Linked DNA regions of Homo sapiens. The protein of the gene in region 6 purifies or fractionates together with the protein of the main gene of each other region. This does not show direct contact. Each region holds a gene or a part of one and is shown on either strand. Other genes may lie near its edges.

Region 1 (4,270 bases), about 47 Mb from region 6:
GGCGGTGGGAGTCCATGCCTCCGGGACTGGCAAGACCTGAGTGTGCATAAACAAGTCTTCCATGCCAGGGTCCCTTTCTGACTTCACTCATGGCCCGTCACTGGTGGGAGTGGCAGTGGCCCTCAGAGTAGCGGAGCCATCATCTCAGGAATGAGACTGGTCCTGAGAGAGGACCCCTCCCCATGGGCTACCAGCACCTCCAACAGGGACCTCATCTCTTCTGCCACAAGCTGCGCCTGGCCCAAAGCAGGGCACACAGGAGCCTGGGCAGGCAGGCGCTGACCCATTGGCATCCCTCTGGTTTAGCCCTCTGTTCTCACAGCAGGATGGTTTGTGTATGGGGCTTGTCTCCCCCAGTAAACTCCAGGCTGTGGGTGGAAGGACCAGGGTCTTGCGCCTCTCGCCGTACCCATCCCAGCACAGCCCTTACTGAGTGGGTGCTTGGTCTCTCTCTGGGCTTATCCTGAAGGCAGCTCAACTGTGCTCAGGGAGACTCAGGGTCCTAGCCCCCTGCAAGTGGTGGTGACAGTTCCCACCTAAGCCACCTGGAGGCCCGAGGCATCTTACAGCCTCTGCTTGTTCTCCACTGAGGATCATCATTTATGAGCCCGTGGCTCGCATGGTGATGGGTGCGGGGGGGGACGGGGGGGCGGGAAACTGCAGATCGTGGCTTTAAGAACTGGGATCGCACCCCCCAAGGAACCCAGAGATTCCACAGAAGGACTGGGGCCAGGACCCAAAGGACAGAAAGATAAGAGAAAAAACTGGGCATCAGAAGTCGAGAGAAAATATTTTACTTAAAGTTAATAAAATATATACAATACAATTCCTGGTAAAAAAAAAAAAAAGAAGGTGAAGGTGAGGCAAAGGCGGGGAAAGGTGTGGGAAGGTCAGAGGAGGAGAGGGGGTAGCAGAAGGAGTAGAGAGGCTGGTGAGGAGTGGGCTGGGGTGGGCGAAGGGCTGGTCGGTGCAGTCCCGTGAACCACAGACAGGGCTGACTCTTCTGAGCTCAGGGCATCTCTGGAGCACCCACTGTGTGCACAGCCCTCAAGATGTTTCAAGGGACAAAAATATCTGAACTTAGAAACCCCGAGCAGAGCCCCAGGTGGGCCATGGCCTATTAGAGCGTCTGTGCCCAGGGACCAGGACAGCCCTCCTGTCCCCACTAATGTCTATGTGAGTCTAATATCCAAACCAGCACTCATCCCTGGAAATAGGCAACGGGAGGGAGGAGAGGACACAAAAGAAAAGCAGGCGTAAGTCCCACTGCCTAGGTGGGCCACTTCTCCCAGACCCCCATCCTCCTCCCGTGGCCCCCTGACTCTTACCAGAGAGGCTGAAGCTGGATTCGTGAAGGTCCCTCATGCCCCCATGCCGGGTGACGGGCCGGGTAGGAGTGTCTGCGAGTGGGGTTCCCATCTCTTTTTTCCCAGGGTGCACGACAACAGCGACATCCCCCAGGTAGGGAGTGCGGTCCACTCCTCTAACCTTTAAAGTCTAGGGAAGGATGGAAGAAGAGCAGAAGAACAGGACAACACCATCAGAGCTGAGTGATACAACCATGGCCTCCCTGGGGGCCGGTGGGACATTAGACACTGCCACTCTGCCCAAGACCCAAATCACTGCAAGTGACCAAGGCTTCTTAAACATTGAGTCCAGGGGCTGGAGTTTTCTCATACCTCCTAAAGAGCATGTGCATATGTGTACATGTGTGCATGCGTGCATGTATGTGAGTGCACATGTGTGTGTGCATGCATGTGTATGGGAGAGATACTGGCTCCCCCTCAACACTGATGGAAGCCTCACCGAGGTAGCAGGTAGACATCTGAGGAAGTCAACTTTAACCAAATTTTTCTTTTCTTTTTTTTGAGACAGAGTCTCACTCTGTCGCCCATGCTGGAGTGCAGTGGTGCGATCTTGGCTCACTGCAACCTCCGCCCCCGCAAAGTGATTCTCCTGCCTCAGCCTCCCAAGTAGCTAGGATTACAGGCGCCTGCCACCGTGCCTGACTAATTTTTGTATTTTTAATAGAGACGGGGTTTCACCATCTTGGCCAGCTGGTCTTGAACTCCTGACCTCGTGATCCACCCGCCTCGGCCTCCCAAAGTTCCGGGATTACAGGCGTGAGCCACCATGCCCAACCGGAAGTCAATTTTAGAGAGCGCCCTCCCACACAGCGCAACGTTATTCCCCACCTTAGGCTCCCACGAAGCCACACCCTTTACTGGTCTGACAACTCTGAGGGAACAGAGGCTAAACACAGCCCCATCTGGAGATGAGAGGCCCCCAGTAGCAATACTAGCTAATTCTGTACTCACAAAGGCAGTAGAGTTAGGAGTCTATATTCTACAACCAGACTGCCTAGGTTCCAATCCCAACTCTGTCACTTGTAAACTGTGTGGCTTTGTGCAAGTTACTTTTCTGTGCCCATAATACTATACCTACATCAGAGAGTTGCAGGAGAGCAGACGAATTAATATGTGTAAAGCTGTTCCAACTGCTCTGGCACATGAGAGGCAACACAGAAGTACGAGCAGTTATTACTGCAGAGGTCATTTATGGTCCTACATCGTATTAAAAAGTGTTATTGGGCCGCGCACAGTGGCTCACGCCTGTAATCCCAGCACTTTAGGAGGCCGAGGCAGACGGATCACTTGAGCCCAGGAATTTGAAAGCAACCCGAGCAACACGGTTAAACCCCGTCCATCTCCACAAAAAAGTAAACATTAGCTGAGTGTGATGAGTAAGAGACCCTGAGTTTGCTTTTGGATTTAGCCCTGCGATCACGAAAGTCACGCTTTCTTCATTCAGGCAGCCCAAGCCTGCGCTCCCACGGCAGACCTGGCAGTGGATTTCTTCACTCATTGGCCTCTGGGAGAGAAGGGTCCTTGGTTTCTCTGAAAGCTCTGAGCCCTCTCGTGTGCTCTGTGTGCCAGCAGTGTGGGCCTCCCGTGTTCAGGTGCCTGCTCCTCCTGTGCTTCAGACAATGCTTTGCAAATGCCAGCTCTACCCCCCGCTTGCTTCATCAAGAGTGGGAGGGAGCCGAGCCAAAGCAGCATCTCCAGCCCCCAGCACCTCCTCCACCCCAAGCCTGCGTATCCAGAGGAGCTCAGCGGTCGCACACACTCACATTTCCCACTTGTGCCCTCAGCAACTCAGGAGCCCTGCTGCCTGACCACTTAAAATGCCACTTGGTAATCAAAGACGGGGAACAGAAATCAGCATTTTCTGACTCTAGCGTTCCCTGGCGCTGCCGCACACTCCCCTCTCAACGCTGGAGAAAGTGCAATGGAATTGGGTCGAAAACTGGAGTGAACATCTCTTTGAGATTTAAAACAGTCATGGAGGATGTTCCCCGGCAGGGGGCGCCAACACCCCTGCATCTTCCTCCTCCCACCTCACCTTCTCTCTCTGGACCAGCTTCTTGTAGACAGTGTCTGGGAAGGACCTCAGGGGACAGAACTTGCCGGTGCCCTCGGCGCACATGAAGACGCCGTTCTCATACACGACGCGCCCCCGGCTGATGGTGACCAGTGGCACGCCGTGGCAGCGCATGTTCTCATACAGGTTGAAGTCTCCTCCCTGGACCTGCGTGCTGGCTGAGATGGTCCTGGTGGGGAGGCAATGGCGGGAGAGAAAGCGCTGAGGACAGGTCAAAATGTCACAGCTCCATGGGAGGGGTGAGCCCCAAAGGCTGGTTGTTATGGGTTGAATTGGCTCCCTTCAAAATTCTTCTGCTGAAGTTCTAACACCCAGAACCTCAGAACATGGCACTATTTAGGGCCTTTAATGTAATCATTAAGATAAAGTGAGGTCATATAGGTGGGCCCTAATCCAGTCTTATCGGTGTCCTTATAAGAAGAGGAGACAGACACACCAGACATGTGTGACACGGAAGAAAGACTGTGTGAAGATGGAGGGAGAAGATGGCCAACGGTAGGCCAGGGCCATATTTTGTGCTAGAAATAGTGCAAAATTATATGCTTTTGGAGATCTGTAATGCAAGTCTTCTTCAAAATCCCAAGCCCCTCTAGCCCTGGGGACGAGCAACAAACTTTACTTTGTGGCTTCTGGGTCCCACACCACCACATCAGCATCGGCTCCGGGAATAATGCGGCCCTTGCGGGGATACAGGTTCAGAAGCTTAGCTGCGTTGGAACTGGTAACGGCCACAAAACGGTTCTCATCCATCTTTCCTCCAACCTGAAATGTTGCAGAAAGTGTCAAGTCAACCAGGCTCTGGGGGTGGGTCTCAAACCCTTGGTCACCT
Region 2 (4,270 bases), on a different chromosome or scaffold from region 6:
CCCAGGCTGGAGTGTAGTGGCACGCTTACGGCTCACTGCAGGCTCCATTTCATAGGCTCAAGCAATCCTCCCACCTCAGTCTCCTGAGCAGCAGCTGGGACTAGAGGTACTCCCCACCACACAGGGCGTTTTTTTTTTTTTTTTTTTTTTTTTTTTTTTTTCTGTACAGACAAGGTCTCATTATGTTGCCCAAGCTGGTCTCGAACTCCTGGGCTCAAGCTTCTCCTCCCTCAGCCTCCCAAAGTGCTGGGATTACAGACATGCGCCACCTCTCCTAGCCGTCTCCATTGTTTATGTGCATACAAATCCCCTGGGAATCTTGTTAAAATGCAGAATCTGATTGGGTAGTGTGGGGGAAAGGGGTGGGGCTGAGAGTCTGTATTTTTAATAAGCTCCGGTGTGATGCTGATGCTGCTGTTCTGAAGACGCTGCTTTGAAAAGCAAGGTTCCCACTTTGAGGAGCAAGGCTGCAGATGACATTCTTCAGGCTAGAGAGGCAAGTGGATGCCTATCATGGACCCTTGAGAGTCCACAATGACTCCTCAAGGATGACAGACATGTAACACTCTGTAAGTGCATGCCACATGTTTCCCCAGGCAGACTTCTAGTCCATTCCAGTGCTTTTCTCCCTGTGTGTGACAATGGTCTCAAGTTCCTTCTCAGCAAGCTTCCAGGCAGTCCTGAGATGGAAACCACCTGCCATCAGAGCTCTGAATTATTATGCATCCTCAGGCCTGAGCTAAACTGGGTACAGCTATGAGATCTGATGGGCGAAAGAGGATTCTGTGGAGTTTTGTAAGCACTACTGAAACTATCACCCCATGCCTGTGACCTCCACATGGGACTCAGTAAGGGCCCTTTGACCTCTGTGGTCAAAGGTAGTTTTTATTTGGGAAGAGGAATGAAAAGTCATTGTTTTTATCCCCAGATCATGACTTTGCTAATCAGAGTCACTTTGGGCATCTTGGCCCTGGGGACAATTTTTAGAAAAAATAGATTTTGCCAGGGAGTAGGCAGAAAATTTCAGAGAGTTCTGGAGCTCTAGGGGCAGCAAGGCAGGTGCAGAGGACAGAGAAAGGAAAGCAGCTGAGGGGAGTCGCCTCCAAATGGGAAAGGTGAGAGCAGAAAAAGACACTGAAGCTTCACCTGAGCTGCTTTACAGTCTTGCTCAGGACCAACCCTGCCAGAAGTTCCTAACATGTTCTGGATAAGGTAGGGTAAGTACTCTAATCTCAGTCAAAATAAGAATGAAAACAGACTCACCCAGTGTGCTGGCCCTTAGGCTGATCCCATCCCTCAGGGATGCTTCTGGACAGGCTCCCTGAGTCTGTCTCAAACCCACCCAATGTGCTTACTGAACTCCATAGCTGACTCTGCAGCGACTTGGTCTGGGAGGTAAAGCGCAGAGTTAGGGTGCTGTCTAGGATTATGGGTGTCCCTGGGGTAAGCTGAGCCATTTCATTCCCAAGAAATGCTCACTGAAGTGTGCTCTGGAGACAAGAGGGGAGCCATCGTCTGCCCTCCTCATCATGGTCCCCTGCCTGCTGTCATCCCAGCCCAGGTCTGCTCCACCAACTGTGCTGGGGCTGTAGTGCCATGTGCCTCACTGCCGGGGACACGTAAGTTCTTGGGGGAGCTAGGAAAGGCCGGAGAGATGGAGCTGTTTTTGCAAATGGGAGAAGAGAGGCCCTGAGATTTAACACGCCCAGGTGAATATTTAGTAACAGTAGACAGCAGGTGTCTTTTCACACCAGCAAAAGTCTTGAGGTCTAGCAACCTCTCCCCAGCTTGCTTTGCTCCCACAGTGGAAGCTTTTCGTAACTCTTGACATAGTCAAAATGGAATCGGCACCAACTATGAAAACATGCACACCCCTCACATACATTTCAAGCTCATATGATCTAAATATTTGGTGAATTCATAAGCCCAGGAATCTTAGGACAACAATAACACAACATTTAGAAATTGGCATCCCTGCAGATCACATTAGCACAACCTCCTTAAAGGAGAGCGCATGGAGCTGTTTCAGGAGTTGCAGAGGTGTTGCGGGGAAGAGCACTTACAGACAAGGGATAAGTTTATTTTTGCCAGAAGTTTTAAGGGGGCTGTGTATTTATTCATTATCAATCTTCTTTGGGGCTGGATTGTTCCTTCTCCAAGTCTGTTCTGGCCTCAGTAAGTTTGTCTCACGTGGTCCTTCTAGATGCCACTGGCTTTGTGCCTGTGACTGGCCATAGGAGGTGTCTCCCAGCTCAGATGCTCCACAAAGGCTGTTGTCAAGAGTCTGACAACATGATACGCTCCTTGGTGTCCTGGACCAGCAGCTTTGTTTATATTCTTCTCTCACCTGAGTGCTCACCTACCCCATCTCCCCTCCTCCTTGGACTCTTACCCATGTGTTAAGAGCAGATCAAAATGTTACCCTCCTCCAGGAAGCCTTCCATCATCTTCCCTTCTTCTATTGCTATGTGCAATCTCCCTCCCTCTGTGCTAGCAAGGGGCTCCAACCCAACCTCTCTCATATCACTTCCTTCCATTTACCTTGAATTCACACCCAGAATGTTCTCCTTTTAGATGTGAGGGTAGCAGTCACATCTATTTTTTGAATCCCTGATAGTACCTAACATAGGGTCTTGAATACAGTCAACTTCACTTAGTTTAAAGAATTTATTCAGGAATAACTGTCCCCCAGTTGCCCTCTCATTCTTTCCCTCTCTCACCTTTATTCTGCACTGCTCCAATTTATAAAGTTCCCCTTTATCCTTTTATATGTTTTTTTTAGTTTCCTCTTTTCTTTTTCTTCTCTCTCTCTTCACATAATTAAACATATTCATGTGAAACCCCTTAAAGACTTAATCTGTCAAAAGATTTGAGCTTTTCCCTTAGAAACCATGCAAACCCACCCACCATTGCAGACGATCTCAGAGGTTTGGGTATTTAGAAGCTGATCCATAGACCCCAGGTCATGGAAATCCCTGCTCTTAGGTGACTGCCTCTTCATCCATCCACTCACTCAGTCATTCATCAAATATGTATAAGCAACTAATGTGTACCAGGTATTGACATTGACCTAATCCTTTCCCTCATGGTTTTTGCTGTGAAATAAGGCAGACATTAGTAAAATAAAGAAATACATGTAAAACCATTGTTGAGAAAAGTGCTAGAAAGAAGAGTGCATGGCTTCTGTGATGATATAGTGGGAGAGTTAGGTTTTGCCAGGAGGGTTAGGGTAGGCTTCTCTGAGGAATGATGATTGCACAAAGACGTGAAGAAAGCATAGGGCTTAAATAAATCAGGGGTGAGCAAAACACCATGTGGAAGCCCAGAGTGGGAGCGTGGCAAGGAGGTCAACAGAGTGTGGGGGCGTTCAGTACACAATGTGGCTCTAGAGCAAGCAGGGAAAGACCACTGAGGCCTCACAGTGTTTAGGGATCTGTATTTCTCCAACGAGCAACAAAAGATGGAAGTGACATTAAATTTGATTTTCCTATTCACATTCATTTCCCAAATTTACCTCTCTTCCCTTCCTTACTTGCAGTCAGTGGTGTTCAGAGAATTGAAAAGTAGTCATTTGCAACATACCAGAATCTCTGGGAGACAGCTAAAGCTGTGTTAAGAGGGAAATTTATAGCACTAAATGCCCACATCAGAAAGCTAGAAGGATCTCAAATCGCCACTCTAACATCACAATTAAAAGAGCTAGGGAAGCAAGAGCAAACAAATCCAAAAGCTAGCAGAAGAGAAGAAATAACTAAGATTAGAGCAGAACAGAAGGAAACAGAGACACAAAAAACCCTTCAAAAATCAATGAATCCAGGAGCTGTTTTTTTGAAAAAATTAACAAAATAGACCACTAGCTAGACTAATAAAGAAGAAAAGAGAGAATAATCAAATAGACACAATAAAAAATGATAAAGGGTATATCACCACCGACACCACAGAAATATAAACTATCATCAGAGAATACTATAAACATCTCTATGCAAATAAACGGGAAAATCTAGAAGAAATGTATAAATTCCTGGACACATACACCCTCCCAAGACTAAACCAGAAAGAAGTTAAATCCCTGAATAGACCAATAACAAGTTCTGAAATTGAGGCAGTAATTAATAGCCTACCAACCTAAAAAAGCCCAGGACCAGATGGATTCACAGCCAAATTCTACCAGAGATACAAAGGGGAGCTGGTACGATTCCTTCTGAAACTATCCCAAACAATTGAAAAGGAAGGACTCCTCCCTAACTCATTTTATGAGGCTAGTATCATT
Region 3 (4,270 bases), on a different chromosome or scaffold from region 6:
AGAGAAAGAAACACACAGCTTGGGTGGCCTGAGGTTGGAGTTTCACACTGAGGAAAAAAGAAGACCGAATTTTCAGAAAAATGGTTCCTTGAGAGCCAAGTGTCAATATATGGTAAGAGAAACTTGGTCCTCAATTTTATTCCATTTGCCTTTGCTCTGCTCAGAGCTGCCATGGACTAGATAATACTTTCCAGTATTGTGGGCTGCTATGGCTCTCTCATTCAGAGCTAAATCTCTAAAGATTTATGATGTGGTATGGTTGAAAATTAGTAATTAATTTATATTTCATAGGACATAAGAGTGAAAGCATTCTAAAGCTTATATTTGAAGACAGTAAGGATGACTTCCAACATATTAACATATACTTCTAATCCTAGGATACTTCCCTCTCTTCATTGTTACCTTCTATCCCTTATCTCATCCTTTGACTCTCTTGCTGCTCAATTCAATATGGCAAAGATTTACTGTCCTCAATCTATGTGTCAAGCCCTATGCTGGATGCTAAGGATGCAAAAAGGAATGAAACATTCAGCCTGTCTGTCCTCAGAGAACCCACTATCTAGTGGGGAAGCAGACACATAAACAGACCATTGTGTTGTGTCCAGAGATAAAGATACTTGCAGTATTGAAAGAGGGCATGGAGGGGGCATAGACGCTCAATACAATCTAGAGAGTTAGAGAAGAGTTTCTGGAAAAGGAAATACTCAGTCTCAAAAGATGAATATGAATTTAATCAAGAAAAGGAAAGGGGAGGAAGGGAAACTGTAGTAGCAGACAGTAAAGACAAGGAGGAGGAATGCAACAATGTGTGTATGGAAGTGCAAACAGTTCAGTATTGCTGGAAAAGGAAGTCTGGACATGGAAATAATTAGAGACGGCAGGAGAAGAAAGCAGGGGTCAAATCACAGGAGGGCCATAAACTACCTATAGGATGTAAGAAGCTCCTGAAAAACTTTAAGCAAAGGAGTAAAAAGGTCAAATTTGCATTTTAAATAGTTCATTCAGGTTACTAAATGGAAATCATGATGAGACTTGCAGAAGTTCTAGGTGAAAGTTAATGAGAACTTGAAATAGGTGACCATCGGTGTCCCACTTAAAATACAGAATAGAAGAGCTGGAATAGGAAGGAAAAACATGGATTTCAATATTGGATCAAACGACTCTTAACCACCCAGATGGAGATGTCCAGCAGGCAGCTGCACATATGTCTAAAGATGAGGACAAAGTTTTGGACTAAAGGTAATGATTAGGGAACTGATTGTACTTAAGAGGTAACTGACACCTTGAGAGTAGATGGACCAGGGAGAATATGCAGTATAAAAAAAGAAGTGGGCAGGAAAAGGGGGCCCGGAGGAACATCTACATTTAATGAGGTAGACAAAGGGAAAGAACAAGAAGAGTGAAAAGAAACTTCGATAAAACAAGTATGAAGAGAACAAAGAGGCTGGGGGTGGTGGCTCATGCCTGTAATCTTGACACTTTGGGAGGCTGAGGCAGGAGGATCACTTGGGGCCAAGACTTCGGGACTAGCCTAGGCAACATAGCAAGATCTTGTCTTTACAAAACTATTTAAAAATTTTAAAAAGGAACAAAGAATGCAGTGTCCTGAAGCCAAGCGACTTCCAAAGGGAAGATATACAGTGTCAAACACATCAGTGAACATTTGACACCTTCCTCTGGATTTAGCAATTAGGTTCCCTAGCAAGAACAGTATCAATATTACAGAGAAGGCAGAAGGCCAGTGTCAGTGGAAAAGGGCAAATAACTGGATAAGTAACGAGTGAGATTTATCTTTCATGTTTGGAAGAGTGATTAGGAAGGTGAGGATGAGTTTTTCATTTGTTACTTTATTTACAAGAATGGAGCAACCCATAGAAAGAGCAATCAGTAGAAAATGAGAATATGAACAGAAGGAAAAAGAGAGATGAAATCTTAAGCAAGGTCATGCAGAAGACAAGAGATGAGTCTTTTTCAACAATAGGCAATGCCTTTATCCTCGGAGAATGAAATAAAGAAAATCAACGTTAAGGTAAGAGAACCAGGACAAGAGCATTCCAAACAAAGGCAGCTGTGCAATAATAGCACCAGGTCTTAAAAGTCCAGCATGTGTGCAGGGAGAGGGTAATCCAGAGTACAGCAAAATTCAGGATTGAGGGGACAGTGAGAAATGAGTCTGAAAAGCTGGAGGCAAACTGTGAATAAGCACAATGAGCAACTACGTGTTAGGGAAGAATGTTAAGAAAGAAGCTAACTTTCTAAGATCCGTGAATGCTTTTGTTTTGCTTAAAAATATTCTGAAAGCAATGTTCTAGGCTTTGATTGGATAGGGAAACAAATACAAGCACTACCTTTTAAAGGCCTTCTGTGTATTTCTCTCTTCCTTCATTTTCCTCTGTAGCCATCCTTCCTTAATTAGTTACAAGTAAAACTGAAGGAGAGCTATTTTAGAATTCACTTATTAAATAAAATTAAGATTTATGTGGTTCTGCCCCTAATTATTAAATATAGCTGAGTTAATGGGTAATGTTTTTGTCATTAAAAAAAAAAACTAAGTTATATTGCCTTTTGAAAAACACAAAAGAAAGCCTTTGATGATATTGTCTTGAGTCGGTGGCCCTCAACTAAATAACAACAACAAAAAGAAGATTCCTCATCCCAGAAGTGTGCAAAATAAACAATCACTTACATAACAAAATTTTGGGAACTCAAAAAAGGAACCAAGGTAGATCAGATACCTGCGGCTGGAAACAGGGAAAGATGTAACACTAACTACTAGTATGGCTCTTTAGCTTTTACAAAATGCTTTTATGGTACCTTATTTTATTTAATTATCACAACAGTGGTATCAGAAATACATAATGTTATCTCCACTTTACAGGTAATGAAACTAATTTTTGTCTGTTATTCTAGAACCTTGAACAGTGCCTGATATATAGTAGACCTCCAGCGGAAATCTGTCAAATAGATGGGAGAAAGGCTCAAGGAGATTATGTAAACCTGATAAGGCCATAAGGCTAACAGTGGAGCCAGATCTCAATTCGAAGTCTTTTGACCCTCAATCCTGTATCTCACATTGTTTCATGCTGCTGAAAAGGAAAGAAGGGCAGGGTGACTGAATCTAATCTATTTTACAATCTTACATGAACTGGTTAAAATTTCTGAAATGCCTGCTGTCAAGCAACAAACACCAAGGCCCATATACATCCTCCTATTCTTAGTCATGCAGCATGGACATCCTTAGAGTTCAGGCACCTGTGGTATCTGCTCACTTTATTCTCTCCACAGGTCACTGCCCTACTAAAAACTACGTCTTCCTGCTGTATTGAAGCAGTGTCTGCAGAACAGAAAAGCCTTCTAGATCATCCTCTCCTTTCTCTAAAGAGATATTGTAGCTTTATGATACCCAATTGCTTCTATGTGGGAAGCTAAAAAAAATTAGGTAACAATTTTTTTCTTATAAAAAAGGCAATTTCTCTTGCAAAAGATTTTCCACAATTCATTTAAATAGTGAGTGCCCCACTGTTTTTGAAATTATTCAATTTACAAAAACTCAATATACACAGCTTTTTCAGGATCATATCCACCACCTAGAGTGAAGTCATGGTTAAATGCAGTAGCCTCAAGACAGAGTTGTATCTTGGTTTTTCTGTGTGTTTAGTGGCACTCCCACTATGTGTACACCTGTAAATCTTGTAAGAACTTCTGCAAGCTTATCAGGTGGCATTGTCATCTTTTGTTTTAGATTCCCACATAGATTTAGCCACAAGTCCCAATTCCCATCATTGATGAGGAAATATACACAGCAGGCATCACAGGATTAGCCTCTTTTTTCACGATAACATATGGTAGCAATAATGTAACAAGGAGGTACTGAATTAAGACCATTCAAAGGTGAGCTTTTCATTCCGGGAAATGTTTAGTCATTTATTGACGTATGTCTCTGCTTCCAAAGATTTACAGGCATTACCATATAGAAAAAAATTAGAGCTAATGCTTTTAAAAGAAAATGGCACAAAAACTGAACCACGGAAATAATACAGTACTGGAAAGGATCTTGGAGAATATATTTCAATCCTCTCATTTGACAAATTTTAGAAAATCAAAGTCCAAAGATGCGAAGTGGTTTATCTAAGAATACATGGTGGCACATTTTAATGGAACATTTCTAAGTACAAGATCTTCATTCCCCAGGATAACTTATCTCTGTGTTCCCATAGCATCCTATGCATACTAATTACCATACAATATTAAAATCCTCTTTAAATGCCTG
Region 4 (4,270 bases), on a different chromosome or scaffold from region 6:
GGGTTTGAATTTAAAGTCTTGGTTCCAGATGAATTAGCCCCAGCTTACAGCAAAGCTGTCAGGTTAGGTCTGGGGAGGGAGAGGAAAAAAAGAAACACATAGACTATGAACTTTCATTAAACCTCTTTGTTGTTTGACTTCTTAGGGAGGCAAGGTGTGACTTTTGTGTTTGCAGGAAAAAAATTCAATAAAGTATAAAGAAGAAAAAACTTATAACGTGCAAGGATAACTAGAAGTGTTAGACCCAAAATACGGACATTTAGCCTTAGAACCTGAACCAGGACAGAAAAAATTAAAAACCAAATAAGAAAAACGTTTCCATGAGGACAGGGAGGGGAACTAGTGCGCTGATATATTTTATGTGTTCTCTAATTTCTCTCACTGGAATTTAACCATGAGCCTGTTTTGCTTTTTTTTTTGTGTTGTGTTGTTAGGTTTTAATTCTACATGGGAAAGAGGATCTAATTCATTCTATTATTTTATGCTGGAGAAGGGAAAGACACGTTAGAAATGAACTTCTGCCTAATCTTTAAGATGCTCTCCTGTCATTACTGGTTTTATCCCTCTCTAGGAAAGAGTGGTCACATGACATGCGCCTTAGACTCACGCTAGATGAAGTGTGGGGTTAGACCATCCTCACCTTTATCCTGTCGATATTGGCTTCCATCTTAAGCTGCTCTACCAGCTTCCTGGCTTGTGCTATGCTGGCGGTGTTGTTGCTGGCCATCGGAGTGCTGGATAGATCTTTCAGAAACACTAGAAAAGAAAACAAAAAGAAGATTGTACCAGAGAATTCATGAGCCAGCAAATGTGCAAGTTCATCGTAACTAGGGGATCTCAAAGCAGTGGCTGTAGCCAGGCCTGGCTTCTCCAGCCCTCTCCATCCTTGGTCGGTATTACCTCTGACTGGCAGGCAGAGCAGAGGATGAGGTTTGATTTTCCAATTCTCCCTACTTCCCCATCCCTTCTTTAGAGAGAAAAAAAACACACACACAAAGAATATTACCAAATGTTCTCCCAGTGGGCTCAAACCCCATCCTTCTGGTTAACTGTGACCACCTCAGCGTATTATACTACAGAGACACTATAGTGGGAGGCTTGGCTTTTCAGTGTCACTTAATCCAGCATTGCTGTAAATAGCCATTCCTCCCCACTCTATTTGAAATTAAAGTTTGAGTCACAACGATCTACTTTACTCATAATTCCTCAGGGACACATCTATCATGCCAAATGGGAGGGATTGCCATGCCTAATCTCTAAATATGACAATTAGTTCACCAGTGTTATTCTAAATGAAGTACAACAAACTTATTAACTGATTTCTTTTATAAATCTGGAACATAAACATTTTGAGAGTAGAGTTCTTGGCTGGGCATGGTGGCCCACATCTGTAATCCCAGCACTCTGAAAGGTCAAGGTGGGAGGATCCCTTGAGGCCAGGGTTTGAGAGTAGAGTTCTGTTCCTAGGCAGATTGCGAGATGGTTTCTTTGTCTCTGCCATACCTCTTTCTCCATGTGTGCTCCCCTCCCCCTTCAAATCCTATCCCACATTCATTTCTCTTCTTATCCTTTCTTGACATACCATCTCACTTTATTATTATTGTTCATCTTGGAAAATACCTTATTTTATTCCCGTTGCTGATGCCCACTTCCCCCACATTCTGAACAAATCTTACTTTGTGTCAAGGTGTCATATGCAATTTTAGGACTACCTGTGTAAATATGCTCCTTGAGATCACTGATATCCTATTGGATAAAGCAAAACCTAAGTGCTTTGATTTGACTAGAGTGCATGACCCATGAAACAGAAACATTAAACACTGCCTCGTCAACACTAATGGAATCTTGTTCTGAAGATATTATATAAAAAATAATGACTTCTGCTAGCTTTGGACAATCTTTTTACCAAAGGATGAAGTAAGATCAGGTTACTTATCTTAAAAAGAAAAAGAACACACAGAAAACCTGGAAAATGAAGAATAACCCGTAACAAATTCTGTACATAGATTTTTTTTAACCTACCAACTAAAATCAACAAATAATTATTGTCTTAATGACCAAAAAGCAAAAGTCTATAAATTATCTCTTTTGGTAGTTATTTCTTGATATCCAGTTCTTCAAGACAAAAGAAGAAATTAGGTATAACTCTCTGTAACATACAAATCCCTTCATGGAGAATATTATGTTGAAGAATACTACAAAATAAGCCACCCAACATCATTTACAGAATAAATTGGAGCATAATTAATTGTTCCCTCAATTTCTTTTCTTTTTTTTTTTTTTTTGAGACGGAGTCTGCCTCTGTCGCCCAAGCTGGAGTGCAGTGGCGCGATCTCGGCTCACTGCAAGCTCCACCACCCAGGTTCATGCCATTCTCCTGCCTCAGCCTCCTGAGAAGCTGGGACTACAGGTGCCCGCCACCACACCTGGCTAATTTTTTGTATTTTTAATAGAGACGGGGTTTCACCATGTTAGCCAGGATGGTCTTGATCTCCTGACCTCGTGATCCGCCCACCTCGGCCTCCCAAAGTGCTGCGATTACAGGCATGAGCCACCACGCCCGGCCATCCCTCAATTTATTTTCAAAGAGTTTGGAGACAATAAAATGAGAGGGAAGATTGAAGGAATTTTTGAAGTCACAGAGATCTCTGAACTCTACTTTTACACATTTGGAGATCAAAGGAAGGAGAATTGCATGGAAAAACAAAATAATAAAAGGAGACTTTAACAAGTATTATTTCATTAGCATGGTTAGAGACCCAATCATCGCAGCCTCACAGGGAAATTACATGCTCCACAATTAAACAAACATCTAACAGCCTAGGAAGACTTCATAGGGCCAAGATAGAGCATTGACTTATTCAGAAGGGTAGCCTAACTCTTCTATTCATCCAATATTGGATGCAGCCACAATCTACAAGCCCCTGGATGCTGTTCTGTGAAGCGAATGTTTCTGCCAAACTGGAATTCATTCATCTGGCTGGAATGCAGACTATCACAGAATTACCAAATTCTTATTGGGACATTTGAGATTCTGGCCAGTGACTCTTCTGCCCTGAATCTACACCAGATTACAGGGTGACCTGTGGCAGAGATCACAACTTGCCTTCTAATCCCTCTTCCTTTCTTCTTCATTAGTAACGACACTTTTTTTCTTAGTGGAGACCACAAGAACCCTGAATTTTAGCTAGGTGTATTTAGCCGAAAGATACATTCCAAGCCTCTCTTGCAGCTAGGTATAGTTACATGACTAAGTTTTGGCCAATGAGATATAAGCAGAAATGTTCTTGAAGGGAAGAGGTATACGCCTTGTCTCTCCTTCCTCCTGCTACTGGCCTGGGAGGCATCTGCATTGATCACAGAAGTCCCTCTTGAACCTCTAGCATGACTGCTACACTAGGGTGAACAGGAAGGATCTGGGTCCTTACTGATTTTGTGGAGCCACCATGCCAACTGTGAGATGGTTACCTTTGATGTGACAGAGAAATAAGTGCCTATCTTATTGATGCCACCATTATTGAGGGGTTCTCTGTCATTAGCCAACAGACCTGCTATTAACTGAGTAAATGACCCATTATTGTCATTCAAGCATCAAGGAAAGTCTGTGTCTCAATGCCTTTTCATGCTCCCTGGGAAAAGCTGTGAGTGGCTTGAGGAGGCTGAGATAGAGAATATATTTGTTCTATTGCTGCTGTAATATATTACTACAAGTTTAGGGGCTTAAACAATAGAAATTTATTATCTTATAATTCTGGAGAGCATTAGTCTCAAATGGGTCTCACTGGGCTAAAGTCAAGGTACAAGCAGGGCTGTGTTCCTTTTTGAGGCTCTGAGAGTTCACTTTCTTTCATTTTCTAGCTTCTGGAGGCTGTCAGCTTTTCTTGGCTCTTGGCCCTTTCCTCCATCTTTAAAGCTGGCAAAGGTGAGTGGAGCCCTTCTCATGTCACATCACTCTGACCTCCTCTGAAGTCACATCTTCCTCTGACTGACTTCTGCCCACCCCTTCCACTTTTAAGGACCCTTGTAACTACATTGCGCCCACACAGATAATCCAGGATAATCTATTTTTAAGTCAGCTGATTAACAACCTTAATTCCATCTGCAACTTTAATTCTTCTCTGCCATGTGACATAATGTATTTCTAGGTTCTGGGAATTGGGACATGAACATCTTTGGGGGGTTGTTATTCTGCCTATCATGGAAGAAGTCCTCTGTATAGGCAGGGAAGGGAAGTAGGGAGGTGGGAAATTGAGATGGGGAAAGAAGAGGC
Region 5 (3,500 bases), on a different chromosome or scaffold from region 6:
CTCCAGGGGCTTTCCAGGAAAAATGTCCCTTGGAAAAGATGTGGTCTTTTCACCACCCCCAGCAGCACCCTAGTAATGGCTTAGCCCTTCCCCTCCCCTGAGCTCCAGAGAGAACACAACCAGCAGAGGAGACATTCCCCATCATCCAGAAATGGGTTTTATTCTCAGCCGAGGGACAGCAGGACTGGTAGAAACTGTCAGGCCACACGGCTGCCTGCACAGCACCCCCATGCTTGGTAGGGGGTGGGAGGGATGGCGGGGGCTGGCTGTCCACAGGCCGGGCATGACAAGGAGGCTCACTGGAGGTGGCACACTTTGGAGTGGGATGTCGGGGGACAGCGTTCTCTGGTAGTTGGGCCACAAGACTCCACAAGGATAGCACAGTGACTGATTCCCAGCGCTAGAGGCGAGGCGGTTGGCCATGTGTAGGTGTGTATATATATGAGTATTTATAGATATTTATAGAACAGGGCAAGGGCATACCACAGAAGGGGCACAAGTTTTCACCAACGGTCACACCTGAATGTATCAGCTCACCACTACAACAGATTAAGTCACAGATGAAGGGGGCTGGCTTTGGGGCTGGGGGAGCCACTGTCAAGTCACAGAACAGCCGTCCAGGCAGGCTTGGAAAGGGAGGTCTCCGAGAAGAGGAGGGATCTGTTTAGAGGTCGAAGGGGGGCCTGGGGCTCTCAGGACGGGATGGACTTGCCTGACCCGATCGGCTGGCAGTTGGAGAGAAAGCAGAGAGAAAACGGGAGAGAAAAGCGAGGAGAGAGCTGGTAAGGCAAGCGCAGCACACGGCCGGGGCCGGCCGCGCCGCAGCAGTGGTGGGAGGGCCGGGGAGGGGAGGCTGCAGGTGTGGGTGTGGCAAGGTTCCTGGAAAAGGGGCTGGAAGGGAAAGGGGAGGAAGATGGAGGGAGGAGCCGTAGCTTCACAGATAGCGCCTGGGGGCTGTGGCGGCCCTCCCCACCCCACACACGCTGGCCTCTCACACGGCACCCAGGCAGGGCACCCGCAATTCAGGCTGATGCTCGGCCCCCTCGGGCTTCCCTCTTCTCTGGTCACCCTGTCTTCCAACCCACTGGCCTGGGGCCACCCCTTGCCTTGGGGAGCCCCATGCAACAGCCACCAGGCCTGATAGAGAAAGAACACTGCTTGAACCAGGAGGGTGAAACTAAAAGGGATGGCTGGAGGGAGCGCCGGAGGCCCCTCTGGGTGTTCAGAAAACCCAGGACCCTCTGAAGGGACCCTGGGGGAGGCAGGGAGGGCAGGCAGCCGGATGCCAGTGGCCATAGACTTATAAGTCTAAGAGGGGAGCCTCAGCTGGTCGGGGGGCTGCAGGTCTCGTAGGTGAGGCTGGGCCCTTCCTGCTGGGAAAAGCAGAAGAGCGAGAGTCAGTGGCAGGAGAATGGGGGGTGGGCTCACTGGGCGGAGCTCAGCTGGGCCAGCAGGCACGGTCGTCCCCTTGGCTGAATGGCACAAGTGACCCTAGGAGCAACAGGCCAAGGTGCGTGAGCCCGCTGGCTGGCTACGGTGCTTCAGCTGGGGCCAGGGACACTGCCTTCAGTCACACTAGCAGCTATGACGGTACCTGGGAGGGAGGGAAGGGGGCTGTGTGTCCCTGCCTGGCCTGTGAGGTATGTCGTGGGATGACCGTGTGTATGGGACTCTCAAGCTTTTACCCTAGGTCACCACTGGATTGCCGGCAGATAGAGGAGGTGGGACCCTGACTCTCACCCCTGCTCTACGGTGGATTTGGCTCTCAGCACTCCCAGGCTGGGAGCTGGATGCCCTACCCAGGGAGCATGACTCAGACTGCACACCACGCACGGTGTGCCCAGGATAACGTTCCTAGGCCTCTGGCCGCCTCAGAGTCCAGCCCCACACACGACCCCCTCCAAGCTCCCAGCCTTTACACCATAAACCACGAGCTCTCTGCCCTCTCTGACGGCTCCAGAGAGCACCCATGTCTGCCAGCTTGGGCGCGGAGCCTGTTCCAAGAGCCTCCAGGCTCAGCCATGGAGGCCTTGGGCAGTGGCACTGAGTCCCGAGGCTCGCAGGGAAGGGAGGTGAGAGAGCCAGCGGCACAAGGACAGAAAGAGGAAAGAGCAAGTCTGCAGCTGCAGAAGGGAGGGGCGGGGAGCCTGGCTCTGAGGTCCCAGGTGCGCGCCCCGTGTGGAGCTAGTGCAGCGGGGCAGACACACCGTTCATGCAGCAGGCGGTGAGGCATGTACCTACCATGGCTGACGCTCCTCAGGGGTCACTGATAGTGATTCTGAAAGACAGCACGAAATCAACATGGCAGTTCACACGCACGGGTGGGGCCGGCCTGGGGGTGGGGGACACACACACGCACACGCCCGGGCGTGCACACACATGCTGTGAGGCCCCATGGCCCACATGCACACGCTAACACACATGCCCACAAACAACACGCATACGCCTCCTTCCCCGCCACCTCCCAGTGCCCAGCACCCTCACTGGCCGGCGGCGCGTGCAGCATGGATCTGGGGCATGCAGCCACTCAGCACACTGAAGCACACGTGTGGGCAGAGTCACAACACAGAAGCTCACCCGCACACAGAGGCATTTGCACCAGCTCCCTGCACACTCGTGCCTGGTGTGCTTAGAGGATCACCCGTGCTGCTCATGGAGATAGGGCTTGCTCGCTAAAGTCCAGCTGTCATTTCTCCACCTAAGAGCCTTCTGTGGTTCCCTACTGCCCACAGCATTGAGCCCCAACAAGTCAAACTTTTCAGACTTTGAAGGTTCTCCACCTTGCGCCCCACCCTGCCCACAGAGCTCTTCCTCATTCTGTCTCTGTTCTCTGCTTTGTCCAGTGGCTGTCCTCGTTGCAGCCCACACTACACCTCTGCCCACACTGCAGCTCTTGGCCCAGATACCCTCCTGATTCCTTGCCACGTAAGCCTATCTCAGCCATGCCTCAGACTGCACTGAAGTCAGGTTGCCTTGAAGAAGCTCTCCCAGACTGCTCTTTTCCCCAAGGTAGGGTCATGATTTGCCAAATGTTTCATGTGTGTTAGCAAGACTGGAGTTGGGGCAGGCATCAAACCTTACATCACAGATCTCACACCGCACCATAGACCTGGGTGCCAAATACCCTGAAGAATCTGAACTCACGTTGGCAGTTAGCAAAGTGCTCCTACGGCTGCATCTGCAGTTAACACAGCATCCCTATAGCCACTGTCTCCCTCGATCCCCACAACCGCCCTGGGAAAAAGGCAGAATGTCATCATTTGATAGAAGGGATGCTGAGGCTCTGGGAGGGAAAGAGACGTGTCTAAAGGCCCAGGGTGAAGCAGCATCTCTGGACTCCCAGTCCAGTCCTCTTGCCCAATACCATGCTGCTTGCCTCTACGCATCTGCTTTGGTCATCAGAGCATCATAGGGCAAGCCCCAATCCCTGCCTCATTTTGGTTTATGGGTGCTAGACCGACAGCCCTACCCTCCAGCCATGCAGAAACAAAACAGATGCT
Region 6 (4,270 bases):
CAAGTTATATTCCAACCCCAAGACTGAGTACCCAGGATCATACAGGCTCCAAGCTTAAAGGCATTCTAGGCAAAGTTAATAAAAATCAGTCAGCAGGCTTAAAAAAAACTTAATACATTTTACTTTGATGACCTTTTTTCATGAAAAACTGTTTACGAAAAAAAAAAGGCAAAAAATTTTCTCACACCTTCCTATGATCCAAACTCATCTGCTCAGCACAAAAGACCCTCACTGATCTGACATCCCCTCCTCCCGCCTTGCCTACCAGGTGATTCAGCTTTCCACTGCCACCTTCTCTGTGAAGCCTCCTTGAACTCTCTCCAGCGCCACTTCATCTCTAGGCAGAGTTAATTACTGCCTGCTCTGGTTTACCAAAGGATTACGCTGTAATTATTTGTTCACTCATCACTCCCTCCAGCTAGACTGGGAGCTCACTTTTGAAGACAGAGACTGAACCTTTGCATCCTGAGTATGAGAACAGTGATGGAGGGAAGGAGGTGAGTCACAGGCACAGAGAATCCACTATACAGTATTTGAAATAAATAGGCTATTTTTTCCCAAGGATTCTTTGCCCAATCATTTATACTTAAAATAAGTAAGACACATATTAGTGATGTGAAGTCACTAATTTTGAATGCTGGAGGAAACATGTTATTAGGGAAGCCCTCTACTGCTTTATGTTTAAGTTTCTTGATTGAAAAGTGCAAAAGAGTTTCCTCTTTTCTGGTTGGGTCTTTGAAAATAAGGTAAAAATGCTGAGATGACTCACTGACAGTGAGATTTCATACAGCAATCTTTTCTTCAATTTACGCTTGTAATCGTAAGATAATCACAAGAAGATGATAATACACTGTAGGGATGAACAGTCTTAAAAGACAGGCTAGGTGTTTTATTTTTTAGATTTTCAGGGGTTCTAGGTACCAAGCTTTTGACTTTCAATCACACATCTTATATGGCTTCGTAAGTCATGCTAGATGCCATTAGTTGCTACTTCACTGATCAATTTTCCTTACATGCCGCTGTCTGCACCTTCAGGATCAGAATAATAGGACTTAGAGCAGAAGGAATACAAGAAAAGCCCTCTAAACATACCCAATTTTGGTCAGGACAGGGGTTCACCTTCCCTGTTCAGGTTTCCTGAATGGGTGCTCTCATTCTGATTTGCTTGAGGATGTTACCTGTGATTAGAGAAGATGATCACTCTTGATTTAAAAAGCAGTTTAATACATTCCCTGTGTGGGTACCAATGCCTAACTTCCACATGGATATCATAGCACAGGATTCAAGAATCTGGTCAGTACTGAGTACACTGGGTCAAGGCGGGGGTTAGGTGTCAGCAATACAAAGATGAACAGCACACTGAGTGGTCAGAGCCCAAGGAAGGTGGTGAATGTGCAAACAAGCTCAGCAGAACTCAAGTGCTGCAGCAGTTGTGGGTACAAAATGTTATGTCAGCCCACAGAGGAGGCAGTGACTAATTCTGTCTAGGGAGAGTCATCAGGGTGTGTGGGGTGATGAAGAGTAGTGGGAGATGAAAGTAAAAAGAGTCAGATTAGGTCCTCCCATTCCACTTCGCATCACCCTTTTCTTGGGCAATTGCATTTACTTCCAAGGCTTCACCAACTACCCCTCTACCCACCAGTCAACAACTTCCACATCTGAAATCTCAGCACCCATCTCCGGACTCTCTTGACCTCAGGCACATATTCCAATCTGTCTCAGAACACCTCTATGTCTCACAGGCACCTCATACAAAACATATCACTCTAACCTCCCCAGACCGCCTCTTCCTTTATTCCCATCCTCATGAACCTCAGTGTCACCCTCCTCTACTCCTCCTCCTACCTCACCTCCAAGTGGCCACCACATCCTGTCAATCCCGCTTCCAAAATCTCTCTGAAACCGTCACTTCTCTGTCATTTCAGTTCTTCTATTCAGGCCTGCATCTTTCCTCCCTCCAATTACTCCAATAGCCACAAAACTAGTGCACAGACTCAACTCTGTTCCAATTCATCTATTCATTCATCCAACAAACTGGATGCAAGGCACTATGGGTACTGCAGCAAACAAAATATACAAAGAAAGTGCCTGTTTTATGGAGCTTTCTTTCTCATCCTACACAATTTCCTTTTTTAAATTAATCTGGTCATGGCACACACTGGCTTCAAGTGTTCAACAGCCTCCCACTGCCAACAGGATAAACTAGCATGGTCCACAAGGCTCTTCGACATATGGCAAATCCCACCCTTCCAACCTCTTGTTCTGCCACCCTTTCACAGGTCCCTTCAACTCCAGGCACATCCAACTACTTCTCTTTCATTAAAACTGCATGTGTTAGCTAGGCGTGGTGGCACATGCCTGTAGTCTCAGCTACTTGGGAGGCTGAGACAGGAGAATCACTTGAACCTGGGAAGCGGAGGTTGCAGTGAGATGAGATCACACCACTGCACTCCAGCCTGGGTGACAGAATGAGACTCCATCAAAAAAACAAACAAACAAACAAAAAAACCCCCAAAAAACTGCATGTGTTTCTTCAGGCTTCACCACCTTGGCACATGTTGCTTTCTATGGCTGAAACACTTTTCCCTCTTCTTCCTCTTGGGAATTCCTACCCCAGAGATTCTGGCTTTCCATGCCCAATCACAAATCTCACCACACAGTATGAAAATTATGTCGAGTCGGCCAGGCACGGTGGCTAACGCCTATAATCCCAGCACTTTGGGAGGCCGAAGCTGGCGGATCACGAGGTCAGGAGATTGAGACCATCCTGGCTAACATGGTGAAACCCCGTCTCTACTAAAAAATACAAGAAATTAGCTGGGCATGGTGGCGGGCGCCTGTAGTCCCAGCTACTTGGGAGCCTGAGGCAGGAGAATGGCGTGAACCTGGGAGGCGGAGGCTGCAGTGAGCCAAGATCACACCACTGCACTGCAGCCTGGGTGCCAGAGCAAGACTCTGTCTCAAAAAAAAAAAAAAAAAAAGAAAAAAAAAAAGAAAATTATGTCGAATCTGTTTTCTCCTACTTAGTTGTGAGTTGTGAGCTCCTTGAAGGACAGGAGCTGTATCCCATTCACTGCTGTGCTCAGCATGAGAGTGGACTCTTAGTCCTCACTCAGTAAGCCTCTGTTGCACAAGAAAGCAAGGAAGAAGCAGAGAAATTTGACAAGGTTAAGAAGCAAAAGTCAGGAAAATAGAGGGAGTTCAAACCTTATCTGATGACCTGTCCTAAGTACTTACTTTGTGACATACCCTGTTCTCTCTCTGGGATTTGAGGACAGAGCTTCCTTTAGGGGTGTGTTTCTCAAAGTACAGTACAAAACATCATATTTAAATAATAACATCATCAGGCAAATAGCAGGACTCTCCCTTCCCATTCCTTTCAATGTTTCGGATTTGGCTGGAGAAAAACACACAGCCATGGTGACTGGTCTCACTTTAAATTCATGACCACTAACTCCAAGTGGGTCCTAAATGGTACCCAGTAATTCAACATTTCTCTTGCTTATTCACTAGAGTATTTCATGTCTTCTGTCTCTACATTCACTCTTAGCTGATGACCTTTCTTCCTACTTCACTCTGAAAACAGACACAACCAAAAGACCTTCCCAAGTTCCCACCACACCCTCTGAAGTTGGTGCTCATATATTTTGCCATCACGCCTGTTACTAGGGATGAATTGTGCTCCTAGCTAAGACTAAATTATTTCCCACTGGGCAATAGATTCCATTCTTTCTTGCTTAAAAATCACTCCAGCAATTCTATCCTCTGTCCCGATTTACCAATTTTCCTCCTTTCCACTAGACCACTTCTGTCAACTTAAAAACATGCTCTAATTCTTTTCACAAAAAGAAAATTAAAAATGTTAAACACTCACACCCTCTTCTAATTTCAGCTACCACCCCATGACTTCCCTTTCTAAAAACTTCCAGTTATCTTAACCCACTCTCCTCACCTCCCATTCTCCTTGAACCTATACCAATTAGGCTTTCACTCCTAACACTCCTAAAACTGTTCTTTTCAAGTTCACCAAAGACCTTCATTTACTTAAACAGTATAACACAGCTGATCATTCCCTCCCACTGAATACCTTCTTCACTTGGCTTCCAGGATATCATTCTCTTTTGTTTTTTTCTCCTACCTCAGTAGGCATTCCTTCTCAGTCTCTGCTTATTCCTTCCCATCTCCCCAGTTTCATAATATTTGCATGCTCAGGGCTCAGTCCTTTCCATCAACACATAGTCTCTGGCATTAAATACCACCTACATTTACA
Region 7 (4,270 bases), on a different chromosome or scaffold from region 6:
TAGTCAGTGAAGCCAGCAAAGGACTGAATGGCACCTGGAGAGAGACAAGGGGACACAGGGAGACAGAGATGGACACAGAGACAGGGACACAGGAAGAGAGGGACATGGAGAGACAGGGACACAGATACACAAAGGTCAAGGACACACAGACAGGGACACGGGAAGAGAGACAGGGACACAGATACACAAGGTCAAGGACACACAGAGCCAGGGACACAGAAACAGTGACAGAGACACAGAGGCAGAGAGAGAAGCAGGGACAGAGAGACAGAGGCAGGGACAGAGAGAAAAAGACACATCCAGGACCCAAAAAGACAGAAATAGGCAACAACTCAGAGACAGGGTCATGGAGAGCAAGGTCAGAGAGAGAGCAGGGACACAGCAGAACCAGAGAGACTGTCACAAACAGAGAGGGACACGGAGGACAACGGAGACCCAGGACCAAATGCAGACACTGAGGTCCAGAACCAGCCGGAGCCCAAGGCAGGGCCTGGGGCAGGCGAGCAGCCCAGCGCAGAGCCCCCCACCTCCAGGCTCCCCGGCCCACGGGCACCCACCAATCTGGAAGTAGGAGTAGGCAGCCAGGGGCTCGTTGACCAATCTGTCACGCTTTGGGTTGCGTGGACGCAGGTGCATGATGTCACTCTCGGCCTTTTCATATGCCAGGGACACAGATGGGAACTGGCCAGGAGTGGAAGGAACTGGGACTGAGGGTTTGGCTGGGCCCTTGTCCCCTCCACTTCGGGTCCCCCTTCCCCCACTTGTGAGCAGGAACAGGACTGAGGTTAGCAGGCAGGACCTGCAGGGACGGCACAGCCACACCAGCCTGGACAGCCTGGGCCCCACTGGCCCCTGGGTGTTGGCATCCTGGTGCCCATCTTCGTAAGAACATCTGCTTTTATCTTCTCCCTCTGTCTCCCTCCCTCTCTTTCTCTGTTCCTCACTCTGTTTCTCTGTCCCTGTCTCCAGTGTAATTCTCTGTGACTGTATCTGCTCTTGTGTATTTCTGTGTCACTCCCTATCTCTGTGTATCTTCAGTCTCTCAGTGTCGCCGTGCCCCTTCATCTGCTTGTGCCTAGAGTGGCAGCAGAGCATACTGACCACGACCACAGGCTGTGGGACCTGTGACTGCTCAAGCTCAAGTCACAGCCGGGCCACTTATTTGCCCAGTGACCTGGGACAATCCACTCTACCTGTCTATGCCTTGATGAGCTCATCAGTAAAGTACGGGTGATAGTAACAAAACTCATCTCATAGTGTGGTTATGAGTACAAAATTAAGGAAATGATGGTGTGTCTGGCCCAGAGAAAGCACTGTGTAAATGTTACCGAATAAATACCTGTCAACACAGCTGCGCCTCTGGCTGCATTCGTGACTGTATCTGTGGTTCTTTTCTGTCTGTCTGCCATGGGGTCTATCTGAGGGGGTTTATTTGTCCGTGTCTGTTTAGGGGCACGTGTCTGTGATTCAAGTTTGGCCAGATACCTGTTCTGTTTCCATCTCTGTCTGAGTATCTGTATCTGAGTCATGTGTGTGCATGGGTCGGCCCGGGCCTACCTGAGTGTCCGCCTGTGTGTGCATGGCTGTATGTCCATTTAGGTCTGTTCACCTGCCTGCCACCCATGTGTCCTGCACTGGCTGTCATTGCACACACAGGTCTTGTCTGTCACTCTGTGCCCAAGAGTGTCTGTGGTGGTCTCTGTCCCTCCTGTCCATCTGCAAGCAAGTGTCTCTGGGCACCCTGTGGATGGGTACCCTGGGCTGTGGACTTACAATGTCAGTGCAGAGTTCGATGAAGAGGATGGTGATGCACCCGAGGGGCAGGGGCACGCTGACGGTGATGTAGATGAGGTAGGGTGTCAGCTCTGGGATGTTCTTGGTCAATGTGTAGGCAATAGACTTCTTCAGGTTGTCGAAGATCAGTCGACCTGTGGGGTAGGGTGGGCACCTCAGCCTCCTCACAGCCCTCTCCCTCCTGTGCCCACACTGCCTGCCCTCCCCCTGGCGTGGCTCGGACCCTGCTCCACGCCTGTCACAATGGAGGCAAAGTTGTCATCCAGCAGGATCATGTCAGCTGCATTTTTGGCAGCATCTGAGCCAGCGATGCCCATGGCTACTCCGATGTCTGCCTTCTTCAGAGCTGGGGAGTCATTCACACCATCCCCCGTGACGGCCACAATCGCACCCTGCAGGCAGTGGGTGCAGGTGGTGGGTGGGTGGTCAGTGAGAGGCCGGTCCAAGACCAGCCCCGCCTGTCTGCCCGCCTGCCCACCCTCATCAGCAGGGCTCACCAGCCGCTGGCAGCTCTCCACGATCACCAGCTTCTGCTGGGGGCTGGTGCGCGCAAACACCATCTCGGGGTGGGTGCGCAGGGCCTCGACCAGTTCCGATGGGTCCATGTCCTTCAGCTGCATGCCATTGATCACACAGGCACGGGCATCCCTGGGGAGGAGATGGGAGGACCTCGCTGGGACCTCGGTCTGTGCCAGATGTGGGGAGAACCCCGGGGAGGTCTGGGGGGGCTTACTTGCGATTAACCTGGTCTACGGGCACACGGAGGCGGGCAGCGATGTCCTCCACTGTCTCGCTGCCTTCCGAGATGATGCCCACACTGGCTGCAATGGCCTTGGCGGTGATGGGGTGGTCACCCGTTACCATGATCACCTGTAGGGGGAACCAGTGGATCACTGACCCCTTCAGATCAGCCCAATCTCCCTGTCCTCCCTGGGAGACATCTGCTGATACACGTGTTCATTTACTTGACCAAGCGTGACCACCTCCTACGTGCCTGGGATATAGCAGAGACAAAAGAGACAAAAATCCCTGTCCTTGAGGAGCTCTAGTGAGGGTGACAGAAAATAAAGAAACGAATTATATAGTGTGTTAGAAAGTGGAAAAAAACATATTAAGCTTGGTGAAGGAAACGGTGACTCGATTTTAAGTGTACCCAGGGAAGGGCTTATTGAGAAGGTGATATCTGAGCAGAGACCTGTAAGAGGTGAGAGAGTCAGCCACGTGGAAAGCTGGGAGAAGAGTGCTCCTGGCAGGGAGAACAGCAGGTGCAAAGGCCCTGAGGTGAGGACAGGCCCGAACTGTCGGAGGAACAGCAGGGAGGACACCATAACTGCAGAGGAGTGAACAAGGAAAGAGGGCTAACGAACAAGCTTAGAAAGGTAACAAGGCCCGATGTAACAGGGCCGTAGAGACACGGGAAGGGCTTGGGCATTGCCTGCCTGGCCTTGGCTTTCCCACCCTTGTTTTGTGTTTGGGGAACCACTCCTCTCCCCTACACCATCAGTTGCAGTGAGGTCCCTGGCTAAGATTGGGTAAGTAAGCCCAGACCTGGCCAATCAAGGTCTTCCATCCCCCAGCCCCAGTGACTGGCTCAGGGATAAATGAGTGACCCAATCCAGTGCTACTGCAAAAGAGGCACTCTCTTTTTGTGGGGTGGCTAAGCAGGTGGGAGTTAAGTTTGAGCTGCTGGAGCAGGGGTGTGTGTGTCCCCAAGTGAAGGGAGTGCCTGCAAATAAAGCCAGCAAAGAGAACAGCAGAGCTGAGACATGGAGAAAGGAAAATTCCTAATGACACTGAGCTCCTGGATCTGGCTAGACCTGAAGCTTAATTCCCCAGAATTTTTCAGTATCATAAACCAATGCATTTTGGTTCAAGCCAGTTTCAGGTGGGTTTGTCATGGGGTTCTTCAACCCAAATCCTGCTGCCATCCTCTGTCCTCACTCCACTTGTTCCTCCCCACAGTGGCATACCCGGATGCCTGCGGTGCGACACTTGAGCACAGCATCAGGGACGGTGGCCCGGGGTGGGTCAATCATGGATACAAGTCCCGCAAAGCAGAGGCCGCTAGATGGAAAGTTCATGGCCTCTACGTCGAAGGCATAGCCAGGCGGGTAGTCCTTCTCATTCAGGTAGAGCTGGCAGAAGCCTGACCGGAAACGGGGAAGTCAGGGAAGAGCCCTGGGCACACCCTTTCTTAGCAGGGCCAGGAAATGGGTAAAATAACCAGGCCCCTTGCACCAAACACCTATGGATGCCTGACCTTGTGCTGACCCCTTCACTCACATTATCTGAATCTACCCTCACAACCACCCTGTGAGGCCCATTCTCATCTTACAGATGAGGAAACTGAGGCTCAGAGAGGGGACATTTCTTGCCAGAGGTCACACAGCAAGTAAAAGGCCCAGAATTGGACCACAGATCTGCTTTCTAGGGTAGAGGCAGCGAAGTTTAAGGCGTCAGGACAAAAATTGGGAGA

What was found.
Region 1: the proteins of DGUOK (region 6) and DPYSL5 purify together in Homo sapiens (affinity purification with mass spectrometry; 3 studies listed by BioGRID and IntAct, with this or other methods). This does not show direct contact.
Region 2: the proteins of DGUOK (region 6) and NCALD purify together in Homo sapiens (affinity purification with mass spectrometry; 3 studies listed by BioGRID and IntAct, with this or other methods). This does not show direct contact.
Region 3: the proteins of DGUOK (region 6) and SYN2 purify together in Homo sapiens (affinity purification with mass spectrometry; 3 studies listed by BioGRID and IntAct, with this or other methods). This does not show direct contact.
Region 4: the proteins of DGUOK (region 6) and GNG2 purify together in Homo sapiens (affinity purification with mass spectrometry; 3 studies listed by BioGRID and IntAct, with this or other methods). This does not show direct contact.
Region 5: the proteins of DGUOK (region 6) and DNM1 purify together in Homo sapiens (affinity purification with mass spectrometry; 3 studies listed by BioGRID and IntAct, with this or other methods). This does not show direct contact.
Region 7: the proteins of DGUOK (region 6) and ATP4A purify together in Homo sapiens (affinity purification with mass spectrometry; 3 studies listed by BioGRID and IntAct, with this or other methods). This does not show direct contact.

What each region holds. Positions count from the first base shown.
Region 1 is NC_000002.12:26,941,883-26,946,152, reverse strand, and holds part of DPYSL5 (dihydropyrimidinase-related protein 5), read right to left. Parts: intron 4,204-4,270; coding exon 4,061-4,203; intron 3,611-4,060; coding exon 3,403-3,610; intron 1,498-3,402; coding exon 1,329-1,497; intron 1-1,328. UniProt on the Homo sapiens protein: Involved in the negative regulation of dendrite outgrowth.
Region 2 is NC_000008.11:101,693,191-101,697,460, forward strand, and holds part of NCALD (neurocalcin-delta), read right to left. Parts: intron 1-4,270. UniProt on the Homo sapiens protein: May be involved in the calcium-dependent regulation of rhodopsin phosphorylation. Binds three calcium ions.
Region 3 is NC_000003.12:12,010,441-12,014,710, reverse strand, and holds part of SYN2 (synapsin-2), read right to left. Parts: intron 1-4,270. UniProt on the Homo sapiens protein: Neuronal phosphoprotein that coats synaptic vesicles, binds to the cytoskeleton, and is believed to function in the regulation of neurotransmitter release. May play a role in noradrenaline secretion by sympathetic neurons.
Region 4 is NC_000014.9:51,947,136-51,951,405, reverse strand, and holds part of GNG2 (guanine nucleotide-binding protein G(I)/G(S)/G(O) subunit gamma-2 precursor), read right to left. Parts: intron 757-4,270; coding exon of another isoform or gene 728-756; coding exon 641-727; intron 1-640. UniProt on the Homo sapiens protein: Guanine nucleotide-binding proteins (G proteins) are involved as a modulator or transducer in various transmembrane signaling systems.
Region 5 is NC_000009.12:128,251,879-128,255,378, reverse strand, and holds the end of DNM1 (dynamin-1), read right to left. Parts: intron 2,279-3,500; coding exon of another isoform or gene 2,257-2,278; exon of another isoform or gene 2,242-2,256; intron 1,371-2,241; coding exon of another isoform or gene 1,301-1,370; exon of another isoform or gene 726-1,300; coding exon 665-725; 3' UTR 135-664; downstream 1-134. UniProt on the Homo sapiens protein: Catalyzes the hydrolysis of GTP and utilizes this energy to mediate vesicle scission and participates in many forms of endocytosis, such as clathrin-mediated endocytosis or synaptic vesicle endocytosis as well as rapid endocytosis (RE).
Region 6 is NC_000002.12:73,929,506-73,933,775, reverse strand, and holds part of DGUOK (deoxyguanosine kinase, mitochondrial isoform a precursor), read right to left. Parts: intron 1,179-4,270; exon of another isoform or gene 1,093-1,178; intron 1-1,092.
Region 7 is NC_000019.10:35,553,149-35,557,418, forward strand, and holds part of ATP4A (potassium-transporting ATPase alpha chain 1), read right to left. Parts: intron 3,941-4,270; coding exon 3,765-3,940; intron 2,665-3,764; coding exon 2,528-2,664; intron 2,443-2,527; coding exon 2,292-2,442; intron 2,187-2,291; coding exon 2,018-2,186; intron 1,929-2,017; coding exon 1,774-1,928; intron 682-1,773; coding exon 558-681; intron 35-557; coding exon 1-34. UniProt on the Homo sapiens protein: The catalytic subunit of the gastric H(+)/K(+) ATPase pump which transports H(+) ions in exchange for K(+) ions across the apical membrane of parietal cells.